Homo sapiens: one gene and its partner. The protein of the gene in region 2 binds, or shares a complex with, the protein of the main gene of each other region. Each region holds a gene or a part of one and is shown on either strand. Other genes may lie near its edges.

The links.
Region 1: the proteins of PLCE1 (region 2) and HRAS are in contact, whole or in part, in a crystal structure (PDB 2C5L), measured with the Homo sapiens proteins. Residues at the interface, in NP_057425.3 of Homo sapiens: Phe2138, Pro2146, Glu2147, Gln2148, Pro2149, Arg2150, Thr2151, Val2152, Ile2153, Lys2154, Lys2171, Tyr2174, Ser2175; in NP_001123914.1 of Homo sapiens: Ile24, Gln25, His27, Val29, Glu31, Asp33, Ile36, Glu37, Asp38, Ser39, Tyr40, Arg41, Glu63, Tyr64.

The regions. Positions count from the first base shown.
Region 1 is NC_000011.10:532,342-539,465, reverse strand, and holds the start of HRAS (GTPase HRas), read left to right. Parts: upstream 1-3,889; 5' UTR 3,890-4,050; intron 4,051-5,090; 5' UTR 5,091-5,143; coding exon 5,144-5,254; intron 5,255-5,521; coding exon 5,522-5,700; intron 5,701-5,853; coding exon 5,854-6,013; intron 6,014-6,107; coding exon of another isoform or gene 6,108-6,189; intron 6,190-6,710; coding exon 6,711-6,830; 3' UTR 6,831-6,835; exon of another isoform or gene 6,836-6,943; 3' UTR 6,944-7,124. UniProt on the Homo sapiens protein: Involved in the activation of Ras protein signal transduction. Ras proteins bind GDP/GTP and possess intrinsic GTPase activity.
Region 2 is NC_000010.11:94,024,914-94,032,148, reverse strand, and holds part of PLCE1 (1-phosphatidylinositol 4,5-bisphosphate phosphodiesterase epsilon-1), read right to left. Parts: intron 1,467-7,235; 5' UTR 1,103-1,466; coding exon 1-1,102. UniProt on the Homo sapiens protein: The production of the second messenger molecules diacylglycerol (DAG) and inositol 1,4,5-trisphosphate (IP3) is mediated by activated phosphatidylinositol-specific phospholipase C enzymes.

The DNA.
Region 1 (7,124 bases), on a different chromosome or scaffold from region 2:
TTGCAGTGAGACAAGATCGCGCCACTGTCCTCCAGCCTGGGCAACAGAGCAAGACTCTGTCTCAAAAAAAAAAAAAAAAAAGGCTGGGTGCGGTGGCTCACACCTGTAATCCCAGCACTTTGGGAGGCTGAGGCGGGCAGATCACAAGATCAGGAGATCAAGACCATCCTGGCTAACGAGGTGAAACCCCATCTCTACTAAAGATACAAAAAACATAGTTAGCCAGGCGTGGTGGCGGACGCCTGTAGTCCCAGCTACTTGGGAGGCTGAGGCTGGGGAATGGCATGAACCCAGGAGGTGGAGCTTGCAGTGAGCCAAGATGGCACCACTGCACTCCAGCCTGGGCGACAGAGAGAGACTCCATCTCAAAAAACAAACAAACAAACAAAGATGCAGACATCTGCCTCGGCCCCAGGCCCTGGAATCATGAGCTCCAGGCGTGGAGTGACAAGTGTGCTCGGAGCGTCCAGTGTCCTCCTCCCTGACCACCTTCATGTGTCTTCAGTCTGGACCTGGACTGATCCCCTGACTGCACTCCCCACCCAGCCTTCCCAGATTTATCTTCCTGATGAGACGAGTTCCCTTCGGAGCCCTGTGTGTCTTACTACGTGTTCGGTTGAGGGCCTGCCTCGCCCCAGAGCTGTGGGCTGCACGTGGCCTGCACGTGGCCTGCGTGCTCCTCTGCTGTCCACAGTCGCAGGAGGGGATGCTCAAATATTTGTCGAAGGAATCCGTGAACAGGCAGATGCACATGTAGCCACTTAGAACGTTCTGGCCATGGCTTTTATCTGTTGACCACGTGTGGACACTGAAGATGCATCCTCTCCATCCCGTCTAGAGCTGCCCCTGTGCCAGGCGAGTTGGCCGGCTGTTGACAGAGGTGGTGGGTGGGAGTGTTGGAGCGGGGCAGTGGCTCAGGCTCTGGGTGCCTCACTGGCCTGGTCTGGAAGGTGACCATGCACCAAGGATCAAAGAAGTGAAGCCCAAAGCAGAATCTCATGGAGTTTCCAGCCCAAATCTCCCCCACTGCCTGCCTTTCTCCAGCCAGTGCAAGGCCCCAGGCCTCACAGCAGGACCCCAACACTGCATCCCCCCAAAGACTCTGGCCACCTCCATCCCAGGCCTGCCAGCCTCGAGCCTCATGGAGGGCGTGAGCTGGCGGGGTCACGGGCAGCCCCTGGACACCTATGGGTGACACTAAGGGCTGAGTCAGCTACCCTTGTCTCCTCTGTGCCCAAGAGCCCCAAGCATCAGACTGGTCTGAGCCCCAAGGCCTGGGGGTGCAAGGGGTTGGAGGCTGTGGGATCCAAAGACCCCATTGAACTCCCACCTCAGACACTGCACCTAGTGTTCTCACCCAGGCCTGAACCCATCCACACACTTCACGGCCCTGCTCCCACCCTGTGTCCCCTCTGCAAGCCCCCATGCTCCCCAAATTGGTAACTGGGGGGCCTGTCTCCACACCCCTGCTAGTGCCATTCCCTGGTGGGTAGCCATCACCTCTGGGTCCCCTGCTGCCCTCGCCCCTTCACCATGGGGGCTCGGAAGGCAGAGCCCGCTCCCCTCCTGAGCCCCACCCTGGAACCCTGAGCACCCTGGGTCATTGCCTCTGAGTCTCCCTCAGGGGCAGGGCTTGGGGCCCCTCCTGTCTCCTGACAGGGAGCCCTTTCAGTGCAGGGCCAGGGGGTGGTGGAGGCAAGGGTCCTCAGGGGACCAGATCTGACATGCGGGGCCATCACTGGGTCCCCGATGGCTGTGCTGCTTCGTCCCCGCGCCCACGCCTCGGCGCAGGTTCCCTCCTGGCACCGGTCATAGGGCGAGGCTTGCGGCTCCCACCCCAAGGGTGCGCTCGGCTCTCACCTGAGGGCTCAGCCTAGGTGTCCGGCCCTGGCAGCTCGGCCCTGGGCGCCCTCCACCTCCAGGCGCTGTCTCCTACTCCAGGCTGTTCTTCCGGCCGCCGCGGGGTTGCGGCCTGGGCGCCATAGCAACGGGAGCCAGGCCTCATTTGAATACGCAAATATTTATAAGTCGCCGGGGGCTCGGGTTCCGTGCGGCTGAGCCACGCCCCTTAGCAACGGTCGCTAGGGCGGGGCCACGTGGACTGGCACGTGCGTGGGCGCCCCTGCTGCGGGCGATCCCAGGGGAAGGTGACGCGCCACCAACTCGAGTTGGGTGGGCGCAGGCGCGTCAGGTGCCAGCTTCCTGCGGCTCCGTGCCTGGGCCGTCGCGATGCACGTGTCGCGTTTCCTCGCGATCCTGGCGCTTCCCACGCGGGGCGGGTAAAGGCGGTCTCTGCTGGAGGCTCGCGCCCACCTTTCCCAGGTGGAAGGGTCGCCCCTGGGGCCGAGGCCTGCCGTCCTGACCTTCGGTTGGAAGTGAGGCCGACGGCAAAAGGAAGCACCGGGGGAAGCGCCCCCGAGGACCAGGAAACACACACCGGACGCCGGAGCGCACCCGAGTGCCCGGCCCGCGGGACACGCTGCCGCCCGCCGTCCAGTCGCCGCTTCTCACTCGCGTTCATGCGTGTCCGCCCCGAGCCGAGCTCTGACTGCGACCGCGCGGTGGACGGACGGCAGGCGGGACCCCCGGGACCGCACGTGGGTGGAGCCCCGGGTCAGCAGCGACCGGCGCAGGAGGGCGAGGCGGGCGCTGGACTGGGCAGAGGCAGGGTTTGCCTGACTGTAAAACGCCTTTTTTGTTTTGAGACGAAGTAGCGCTCTGTTGCCCAGTGCAGTGGCGCGATTTCGGCTCACCGCAACATCCGCCTCCCGGGTTCCAGCGATTCTCCTGCCTCAGCCTCCCGAGTAGCTGGGACTACAGGCGCGCGCCACTGCAGCCGACTAATTTTTTGTGTTTTTAGTAGAGACAGGGTTTCATCATGTTGGCCAGGCTGGTCTTGAACTCCTGACCTCAAGTAATCCACCCGCTTAGGCCTCCCGAAGTGCTGGGATTATAGGCGTGAGCCACCGCGCCCGGCCCTTTTTGTTTTTTAATGAGGATGTATTTCTGATTCCTTTGCAATTTTAAAAAATGTTAAAAACATGTCTTTTTGGGTTTGAAAGAGCTAGGATGTGCGTCTATGTGCTTGGGGTGAGCCCTGGGCACTTCGCTCCCCTGTGGCAACTTGTGGGTACGGTTTAACTGGACCACGCTGAGCTTCTGCAGCGTTGGAACCTCAAGTTTGGGGGGACTGGGCGGGCAGGGTCGCCTGCCACGCAGGCCCGAGAAAGAGGAGAGTGGTGGAGGGGGCGTTCTCACGCCTGGCCCCAGGGCACACGGCTGCGCCCGCCGCCCGGAACCCCACCGGGGCTGCAAGCGTCCTCGGGGTGGGTTGCGGTGGGAGTAGGGGAGCTGGGGTGCGTGGTGGTAGGTGGGGTGCGCGGCCGCTCCACCTGCGCGGAAGGGCAGCCGGGCAACCGGACCCCGCGGCCACCCGGGGGCCCCCAGCTCCGAGCATCCCGCCTTGGTCCCGGCGGATCCCAGCCTTTCCCCAGCCCGTAGCCCCGGGACCTCCGCGGTGGGCGGCGCCGCGCTGCCGGCGCAGGGAGGGCCTCTGGTGCACCGGCACCGCTGAGTCGGGTTCTCTCGCCGGCCTGTTCCCGGGAGAGCCCGGGGCCCTGCTCGGAGATGCCGCCCCGGGCCCCCAGACACCGGCTCCCTGGCCTTCCTCGAGCAACCCCGAGCTCGGCTCCGGTCTCCAGCCAAGCCCAACCCCGAGAGGCCGCGGCCCTACTGGCTCCGCCTCCCGCGTTGCTCCCGGAAGCCCCGCCCGACCGCGGCTCCTGACAGACGGGCCGCTCAGCCAACCGGGGTGGGGCGGGGCCCGATGGCGCGCAGCCAATGGTAGGCCGCGCCTGGCAGACGGACGGGCGCGGGGCGGGGCGTGCGCAGGCCCGCCCGAGTCTCCGCCGCCCGTGCCCTGCGCCCGCAACCCGAGCCGCACCCGCCGCGGACGGAGCCCATGCGCGGGGCGAACCGCGCGCCCCCGCCCCCGCCCCGCCCCGGCCTCGGCCCCGGCCCTGGCCCCGGGGGCAGTCGCGCCTGTGAACGGTGAGTGCGGGCAGGGATCGGCCGGGCCGCGCGCCCTCCTCGCCCCCAGGCGGCAGCAATACGCGCGGCGCGGGCCGGGGGCGCGGGGCCGGCGGGCGTAAGCGGCGGCGGCGGCGGCGGCGGCGGGTGGGTGGGGCCGGGCGGGGCCCGCGGGCACAGGTGAGCGGGCGTCGGGGGCTGCGGCGGGCGGGGGCCCCTTCCTCCCTGGGGCCTGCGGGAATCCGGGCCCCACCCGTGGCCTCGCGCTGGGCACGGTCCCCACGCCGGCGTACCCGGGAGCCTCGGGCCCGGCGCCCTCACACCCGGGGGCGTCTGGGAGGAGGCGGCCGCGGCCACGGCACGCCCGGGCACCCCCGATTCAGCATCACAGGTCGCGGACCAGGCCGGGGGCCTCAGCCCCAGTGCCTTTTCCCTCTCCGGGTCTCCCGCGCCGCTTCTCGGCCCCTTCCTGTCGCTCAGTCCCTGCTTCCCAGGAGCTCCTCTGTCTTCTCCAGCTTTCTGTGGCTGAAAGATGCCCCCGGTTCCCCGCCGGGGGTGCGGGGCGCTGCCCGGGTCTGCCCTCCCCTCGGCGGCGCCTAGTACGCAGTAGGCGCTCAGCAAATACTTGTCGGAGGCACCAGCGCCGCGGGGCCTGCAGGCTGGCACTAGCCTGCCCGGGCACGCCGTGGCGCGCTCCGCCGTGGCCAGACCTGTTCTGGAGGACGGTAACCTCAGCCCTCGGGCGCCTCCCTTTAGCCTTTCTGCCGACCCAGCAGCTTCTAATTTGGGTGCGTGGTTGAGAGCGCTCAGCTGTCAGCCCTGCCTTTGAGGGCTGGGTCCCTTTTCCCATCACTGGGTCATTAAGAGCAAGTGGGGGCGAGGCGACAGCCCTCCCGCACGCTGGGTTGCAGCTGCACAGGTAGGCACGCTGCAGTCCTTGCTGCCTGGCGTTGGGGCCCAGGGACCGCTGTGGGTTTGCCCTTCAGATGGCCCTGCCAGCAGCTGCCCTGTGGGGCCTGGGGCTGGGCCTGGGCCTGGCTGAGCAGGGCCCTCCTTGGCAGGTGGGGCAGGAGACCCTGTAGGAGGACCCCGGGCCGCAGGCCCCTGAGGAGCGATGACGGAATATAAGCTGGTGGTGGTGGGCGCCGGCGGTGTGGGCAAGAGTGCGCTGACCATCCAGCTGATCCAGAACCATTTTGTGGACGAATACGACCCCACTATAGAGGTGAGCCTGGCGCCGCCGTCCAGGTGCCAGCAGCTGCTGCGGGCGAGCCCAGGACACAGCCAGGATAGGGCTGGCTGCAGCCCCTGGTCCCCTGCATGGTGCTGTGGCCCTGTCTCCTGCTTCCTCTAGAGGAGGGGAGTCCCTCGTCTCAGCACCCCAGGAGAGGAGGGGGCATGAGGGGCATGAGAGGTACCAGGGAGAGGCTGGCTGTGTGAACTCCCCCCACGGAAGGTCCTGAGGGGGTCCCTGAGCCCTGTCCTCCTGCAGGATTCCTACCGGAAGCAGGTGGTCATTGATGGGGAGACGTGCCTGTTGGACATCCTGGATACCGCCGGCCAGGAGGAGTACAGCGCCATGCGGGACCAGTACATGCGCACCGGGGAGGGCTTCCTGTGTGTGTTTGCCATCAACAACACCAAGTCTTTTGAGGACATCCACCAGTACAGGTGAACCCCGTGAGGCTGGCCCGGGAGCCCACGCCGCACAGGTGGGGCCAGGCCGGCTGCGTCCAGGCAGGGGCCTCCTGTCCTCTCTGCGCATGTCCTGGATGCCGCTGCGCCTGCAGCCCCCGTAGCCAGCTCTCGCTTTCCACCTCTCAGGGAGCAGATCAAACGGGTGAAGGACTCGGATGACGTGCCCATGGTGCTGGTGGGGAACAAGTGTGACCTGGCTGCACGCACTGTGGAATCTCGGCAGGCTCAGGACCTCGCCCGAAGCTACGGCATCCCCTACATCGAGACCTCGGCCAAGACCCGGCAGGTGAGGCAGCTCTCCACCCCACAGCTAGCCAGGGACCCGCCCCGCCCCGCCCCAGCCAGGGAGCAGCACTCACTGACCCTCTCCCTTGACACAGGGCAGCCGCTCTGGCTCTAGCTCCAGCTCCGGGACCCTCTGGGACCCCCCGGGACCCATGTGACCCAGCGGCCCCTCGCGCTGTAAGTCTCCCGGGACGGCAGGGCAGTGAGGGAGGCGAGGGCCGGGGTCTGGGCTCACGCCCTGCAGTCCTGGGCCGACACAGCTCCGGGGAAGGCGGAGGTCCTTGGGGAGAGCTGCCCTGAGCCAGGCCGGAGCGGTGACCCTGGGGCCCGGCCCCTCTTGTCCCCAGAGTGTCCCACGGGCACCTGTTGGTTCTGAGTCTTAGTGGGGCTACTGGGGACACGGGCCGTAGCTGAGTCGAGAGCTGGGTGCAGGGTGGTCAAACCCTGGCCAGACCTGGAGTTCAGGAGGGCCCCGGGCCACCCTGACCTTTGAGGGGCTGCTGTAGCATGATGCGGGTGGCCCTGGGCACTTCGAGATGGCCAGAGTCCAGCTTCCCGTGTGTGTGGTGGGCCTGGGGAAGTGGCTGGTGGAGTCGGGAGCTTCGGGCCAGGCAAGGCTTGATCCCACAGCAGGGAGCCCCTCACCCAGGCAGGCGGCCACAGGCCGGTCCCTCCTGATCCCATCCCTCCTTTCCCAGGGAGTGGAGGATGCCTTCTACACGTTGGTGCGTGAGATCCGGCAGCACAAGCTGCGGAAGCTGAACCCTCCTGATGAGAGTGGCCCCGGCTGCATGAGCTGCAAGTGTGTGCTCTCCTGACGCAGGTGAGGGGGACTCCCAGGGCGGCCGCCACGCCCACCGGATGACCCCGGCTCCCCGCCCCTGCCGGTCTCCTGGCCTGCGGTCAGCAGCCTCCCTTGTGCCCCGCCCAGCACAAGCTCAGGACATGGAGGTGCCGGATGCAGGAAGGAGGTGCAGACGGAAGGAGGAGGAAGGAAGGACGGAAGCAAGGAAGGAAGGAAGGGCTGCTGGAGCCCAGTCACCCCGGGACCGTGGGCCGAGGTGACTGCAGACCCTCCCAGGGAGGCTGTGCACAGACTGTCTTGAACATCC
Region 2 (7,235 bases):
TCTTCTGATCTATGTAACTCCATGCAGTCAGCCCAATGTGGCCAGAAGGCAGAGTTCTCACAATTGCTCTTGTTCCAGTATACACAGATTTCTTAACTTCTCTGTCATTTTTACAGAATCTCCTGACTAACAAAGTGGATCGCTCCTTTTTGCTTTTAAAAGCGTCTTCTTCTACATCATCACAATTATCAGGGAAGTCCTCAAAATGGCTCAAAAAGGTCTTGGCAGCTTGACTGTCAGTAAAGTCTTTCCTACAAAAGCTATCACCTGAATATACCATGTCAACCTTCTCACAAGAGCCTTCAAAGCAAAAGTATTTATCATTCAAGGTGTCACAATGATCACACTGCAGCTGCTCATTCTTATTATCACAATTTTTGGCCAATTCCATCAGTTTACAGGTATATGCCACATAGTTTTTCTTTTGCTTCTCCTCACCCCCAGGTAGTGGTACACAATTTCCACAATCGTCTAAAATTAAGTTTTCTGATAGGGTACAGAAAGTGTCTGACATTCTTCTGTCAACTTCATAATGAAAATGAAATACTGCCCTTCTGCTGTCAGGGTGTGCTCTGCCTGTCTCTATGATCACTGACTGATTTCCTAAAGGACTAATGCCCATGGAAGGTCTGTCTAGTTCCAGTTGAATTCCAGGGAACACCTTTCTTTCCAGTGGAGAAGGAATTCCAGTTTCTAAACACAAGTCTTCCTCAGCAACAGAGTTGTACATTTCATAAAATTGTCTCTGAGGAAGGCCATGCTGATGGTTTCTCAATATGTTGTTGCAGTTAATGTTAAGGTTTTTCGCAGAATCTGGCATGATTTTCTCCCAACATTTTTCATTACTGTTCTCATCACTCACTATTTTCTCCCTCGCTATTGAGAGAATCTTTGGCAAGTTGCTTCCAGAAGGTTCTTCTTTAAGTTTGTTCAGTTGTGAGATGGTATGAGAAGTCTCCCCACTTCGTCTGACAGTATGTGCTTTTGAAATATTGATGTCTGAGACCTTTTCACTACTTTCATCTGCAGCCGACTGGGCAGAAACCACTTTTCTCTGAGTCACAGGTATGAGAACAGAAGCTGTCATTTCTTCAGAAGTCATCTTGGACTAACACACAGGTTTTGACTATTGCTCTATTTTTCCTCCCTGGTGATCATGTCAAGGTTTTAATAAAATGACTGATTATTACAACAATCTCAGATACACAAGTCCTCCCAAAGAACAAAGGGATAATTCCTTTCATTCAGGAGCATTAAGAGGCAAATAAATTTTCTTAGTTATAACTTCCTATCATGAATATATATTTTTTCTAGATCAGGGTTTTAAGGTGGTAGATCAATTTTCCTTCCTCTGTTACCTGAAGCAAAATTTTTTGAAGACTTTTACTCGGGATTGCACTCTGCAACTTCTGATCCATCACTGATTTGCAATGATTTTAAAATCCAGTTTGAATGATTCCTGTTTCCTGTAAGAAAAGAGATAATGTCAAACACTGTGGCACTCAGTGAGTTTTTAAAAAAATGATCTCACAATCCTAAGATACAGACAATTTTGAGAAAAAAGGTTTTTTTTTGCAATCAGAAGTTGGTTTTTATGTTTTTAGTATTTTTTTTTTATTTAATGTTTCAGAACTTCTGCTTCCAGCCAAAATGGAGTAACAAGGGCAAGATTTATTCATCCACCTTAAATAACTAAAAAGAAAATCAGAAAAAAACCCAGTGGTTTTCAGATATTGAACAACGAGCAACACAGACATTGATGTCTGAAAGAAGAAAAAAAAAAGAAGTGAGCCCTATAAATGCCCTAGCTTACTGCTTAGAAAGTTTCCAGGCAACAAGGCAAGGAAGGGAAACTCAGATAAAATCCAACAATTTACCTGAGTAGAAGAGAAATAGTTAAGACTTCAGGGAGGCCAAGGAAGCTAGAGAAATAAGGCACATTAAGCAAAGAGGCACAAAGATAAGAATGACAGCAGACTTTTAATCAGAAACAATGCAATCCAGAAGAGAGTGGACAAATCTTTAAAGTACTGAAAGAAAAACTACTGTCAACTTCAAATTCTATACCCAGCAAAAATGTCTTCTGCAAATAAAAATTAAGTAAAAACTTTTCCAGGCATATAAAGCTGAAATAACTTATCACTAACAAGCCTGCACTGCTTGTAACTCTGTTAGTAGAGAGAGGGAATCAAAAAAATTTCTATCCAATGTGGAAACACAATTATAAAGGATATACAAGGCACTATAGGACTAGAAGGTGCCCATGATGAGCATATCATTCCCTTCCAGGAGAAGCAGTTGCTCCCGAGAAAACTAATCAGCAGTCACGCTCTGCTGCCAACACCAGCTTTGCCTTGCCTTTGCTCTTTGACAAATAGATGTCTTTCTTCCCCTTGCTTCTCCCGTACCCTCTTTTCCCAAAGAGTCATCAACTACCCCTTAATCCCTTCTATATGTGTTCCCTCAAGCACAAACACAGCCTCAAGGGTGAGAGGCTCCCAGTATATTCATGTCTCTACAACTACTCTGAAAAATCACTGGAAACCCTAGAAATCATATTCTTTGCAGGGAATAAACCAGCCCACACAGAGCAGCAGTGTCCTAGCTCAACATCCTAACAAATCCTATCACACAGCAATAACTATTATCAATACTTTCAGAAACCTCCTTCCAGAACACTCCCTATGCATCAACATACATAGAGATATATGTGTATAACTATGCAAATACCAGATAATGTTGGTCATTCTGTTCTGTACCTGCTTTTAAAAATTCAAAGCACACCATGAACAACTTTTCAGGTCAAGATTATATAGATAATTTTAGTGGCATATGGCACTAACTTGAATTCAAATATCTGCTCTATTTTTTAAAGAGATTTTTCAGGCCAAAGCCTTCAGATTGACAGCTAATATGTCCTTTCTTACCCATGAGGTAAGCAATTCAAAGGAGGAGAAGGGGAAAACATTTTTGGTGATGCTTAGGTCCTGTTCTAAGGACTTTGTAATTATTGTTGTTATTATAATTATAAATATCATCATCATCATCATAATTTTGAGACAGAGTCCCATTCTGTTACCAGGCTGAAGTGCAATGGCACAATCACTGCTTGCTGCAACCTCTGCCTCCTGGATTCAGCAGTCACATACTGTTCCTTCTATCATATTCTATATGTTAGAAGGAATTACTAAGTATAACCCACATTCAAGGGGAGGGGAATTAGGGTCCACCTTTTGAAAGGAGAAATATCAAAGAATTTGTGGACATATTTTAAAACCAGCCTGGGTTCAAGTGATCCTCCCACCTCAGCCTCCCAAGTAGCTGAGACTATAGCACTGCGCTTGGCTAATTTTTGTATTTTTTGTAAAGACAGGGATTCACCATGTTGCCCAGTCTGGTCTTGAATTTCTGGGCTCAAGCGATCCTCCCATCTTAGCCTCCCAAATTGCTGGAATTACAGGTGTGAGCCACTGTGCCCGGCCACTTTGCAATTATTATCTTGTGTAATTCTCACTCAATACTACAAGATAGTGTGATGGTTTTAAAATATGTCCACAAATTCTTTGATACTCCTCTCTTCACAAGGTGGAGCCTAATTCCCCGCCCCTTGAATGTGGGTTATACTTAGTGGCTTCCCTCTAATGTATGGAATGTGGTAGAAGGAACAGTACATGACTGCTGAGAATCAGTCATGAAAGTCATTGGAGCTTCCTCCTTGCTACTCCTCTCTCGCATGCTCTGGGGGTAATCTGCTGCCATATTGTAAGAAGAGATCCCTGTGGAAAGTATGGAGGACTCTTGACAACACCCATGTGAGTGCGCCATCTTGGAAGCGGATCCTCCAGCTATAGTCAAGGCTTTAGATGATTGTATCTGCAACCTATATCTTGACTGCAACCACATGACAGACCCTCAGACAGATAAGCCTCGTCCCAAATTCCTGACCACAGAAACTGTGAGATGATAAATGTTTATTGCTTTGAGCCACTACATTTTGGGCTAATATGCTACACAGTGATAGATAACTAATACAAATAATTTCTGCTATCCACATTTGAAAGAGTAGAAACCAAAGCAAAGAAAAGCTAAGTGAATTGCCAAAGATCCCTCCACTGGAAAATGATTGAGACAGGATTCAAATCCAAGAAGACTGACTACAGAATCTCTTCTCTTAGCCATAGACTATGCTGTTTTATCTTCCATCTAGTCTGAAGCCCTATGGGTTTGGGTTTCTGATGTCTTCTAGCTATGAAGACCCATGGCTGCTAGGAGAAGCCTTTCATTTTTTATTTTTTATCTTATTTATTTATTTATTTATTTATTTATTTTGAGATGGAGTCTCACTCTGTCGCCAGGCTGGAGTGCAGTGGCATGATCTTGGCTCACTACAACCTCCACTTCATGGATTCAAGCGATTCTCCTGCCTCAGCCTCCTGAGTAGCTGGGACTACAGGCATGTGCCACCACGCCCAGTTAATTTTTTGTATTTTTAGTGGAGACGGGGTTTCACCATGTTAGCCAGGATGGTCTCGATCTCCTGACCTTGTGATCCGCCCACCTTGGCTTCCCGAAGTGCTGGAATTACAGGCATGAGCCACCAAGCCCAGCCAAGAAGCTTATCTTATATGTGGCTTTGTCTCTGGAAGGCTGAGGATATACACAGACATCGAAGCAATGGTCTTTGCTTTGCCTCCAGCTTACTATCATGAATCATGGATGAGCAACATTACAGGGAGCAGACTTTATAGAGCACTAGACTTGGTTCAATCTCAGACCATTCCTTTATTCAGCAAATATTTGTTGAGTACACAATTAAATAAGGCAGGGATCTTGTCCTGGATTTCCTTACCATCTGATAAGTCACCAAAGTACAGTGTAAATAGAGCTATAATCTGCATTAACACAGAGGAAGAACATCTAAAGCAGACAGTGCTGATGGGGTGGGAGTGATTTCCAGGGAGGGTTTCCTTCACAAGAAGACAACTCAGTTGAGTTTCAAAAGATAAGTAGGAAGTAGTTAGATAAACAGGTGGGGTGGAGTTTTCAGGGAAGAGCAAATATGGGCAGTCATAAAAAGAAAACAGTCAGACATTGGGGTCTGGTATCTCAGGTAAAAATTTTAACCACTTTGGGGTTTGATTTCTTCTTCTGTAAAATAGAAATAAAATCACCTACTCCATCAGGTTGTGAAGGAAATACTTTGAAATCCAAAAATTCAAGGCAAATGTTTATTATTCTATGCCTTGAAATATCTTGGTAAGAAAGAACAACCAAGGTCTGGCAGCTCTGTTGTATCAGTGAAATGGCATTGAATTTACTGTACCAGATACACACCCTTCACTAGGTCCACTCCAATTTTAATTTCAGTTCTATATCTGGGATCAACTCCTTAAATCTAAGCTGCATGATCCTGAGCTGATTAAATTATCAATTTTGAGATATACTTTCCACATCTATAATATTGAGATGAAATATATATATACATTTTGTATGTCAGCAGCAGCTGACCCATCAATAACTGTTAACTTTCTATTTACTCACTCTTGGTCAGCTCTAGGTTGTTTTTAAGGGAAGCTGGCTAGGTTAGGTTAGATTTAGAGTTATAGTGGCATTCAACTGTTGGCTAAAGATAACCTAAAGCACTGAATGAAGAACATAGTCTAGTGGGTTTGAAGAAGAAAAAGATGGAAAAAGGGATTCTTCTTTTCTTAGTGTGAACAGGTTTATGGGGGAGATTGGATAAGTGCCAGCCTGGGAGAGGTCAAAGGTTGTGTGGGCTAAAAATATGGCAGAACAAGAGGGTACCTGTCAAGATAGTATGTCCAATCTTGAGATATTTGGGGATAGGTAATATGACTAAAGAAATGACTGGCCAGGAAGTCGATCTATGGAGATGCAAGAATTGCTGGAAATTCTAGCCAAAGCATTAAGACAAGAAAAATAAATGAAAGGTATAAGCAGAATCAGGAGTGACAGGGTAAGTTTTCAGCTTCAGGAGAGGGGACTATGGGCCAGGAATAATCCTGTTGATGGGTGTTTTCATGGGCTAAATCAAGGGCTGGAAAACTACATACTGAGTCCCAAATCTGGTAAGCCATCTGTTTTTGTAAATGAAATTTTATTGGAACACAGCCACATCTATTTATTTATGTCATGTCTGTAGCTGCTTTTGCATTATAATAGTAGAGCTGAAAAGTGGTAACAAATACCATATGGTCTACAAAGCCGAAAATATTTGCCATCTGGCTCTTTACAGAAAAGTCTGCCAGTCCATGTACTAGATAAATAATGAATTAATGAAATGCATGGTTAGAGCAAGAAAACTATGTGGGAGGCTTGATAGCCATCTTTATTTATTTGAAGAATTGAGATGAGGAAATGGGCTCATCTCATATTCTTTCAAAAGGGAGGATCAGGACTAAGACATGAATTATAAGAGAGGTAAGCTTTGGATCCGTCTGATAAAGATTTCCCTAACTTTTAGAGCTTTTCAACAAAGGGTGGGCTATCTTGGATGATGGCCTTCTTTCAGTTACTGATAGATTTAAACAGAGGCACATTATTCAGCATCAGGGATGCTCAATATATGCTGAACAAATAAACAGAGAGAATTTAGAATGACAGAGTAAAAATGGATGACTGTATACCAAGGGTAATTATAAAAACAATGACCTAATACTGAGCATGTATTATCTATCAGGCATGTTCTAAGCACAGAATACATACTATCTCATTTAATCTTTACAACATTATCAGTAGGGTGGCAGAGACTCCTAATTTCCCCCCAAAATCTGTTCTCATTTCCTCAGTAGTAGAACCTCTGAATTTGACCTAAGCATATGGATATTCCTTTATTAGCCTCCCTTACAGCTAGATGTGGCCATGGGACTAAGTTACAGCCAAAGAGATATAAGCAAAGTGGTTTGCAATTTCTGGAAAGAGAGCTTGAAGGAATAGAGTCTGCCCTTTTCCTGCCCCTCTTTCTTCTGCTGCTGATTGGAAGAAAGGCATGATAGCCAGAGCTGGAGCAGCCATCTTAGATTGTGAGGTGAACATGAGAATGAATGTCATGTATAGGAAAAAAAAAACAAGATAGAAACCTGACTGCCTGTTTCCGGGACTTAGGGGAGGGAAAAAAAATTCTATCTTGTTTAAGCCACCATTGTCTTGGGTTTTCTGTCACTCACATCTAAATCTTTTCCTAACTAAAACTAAAAAGGTGGGGGTAGTATTAT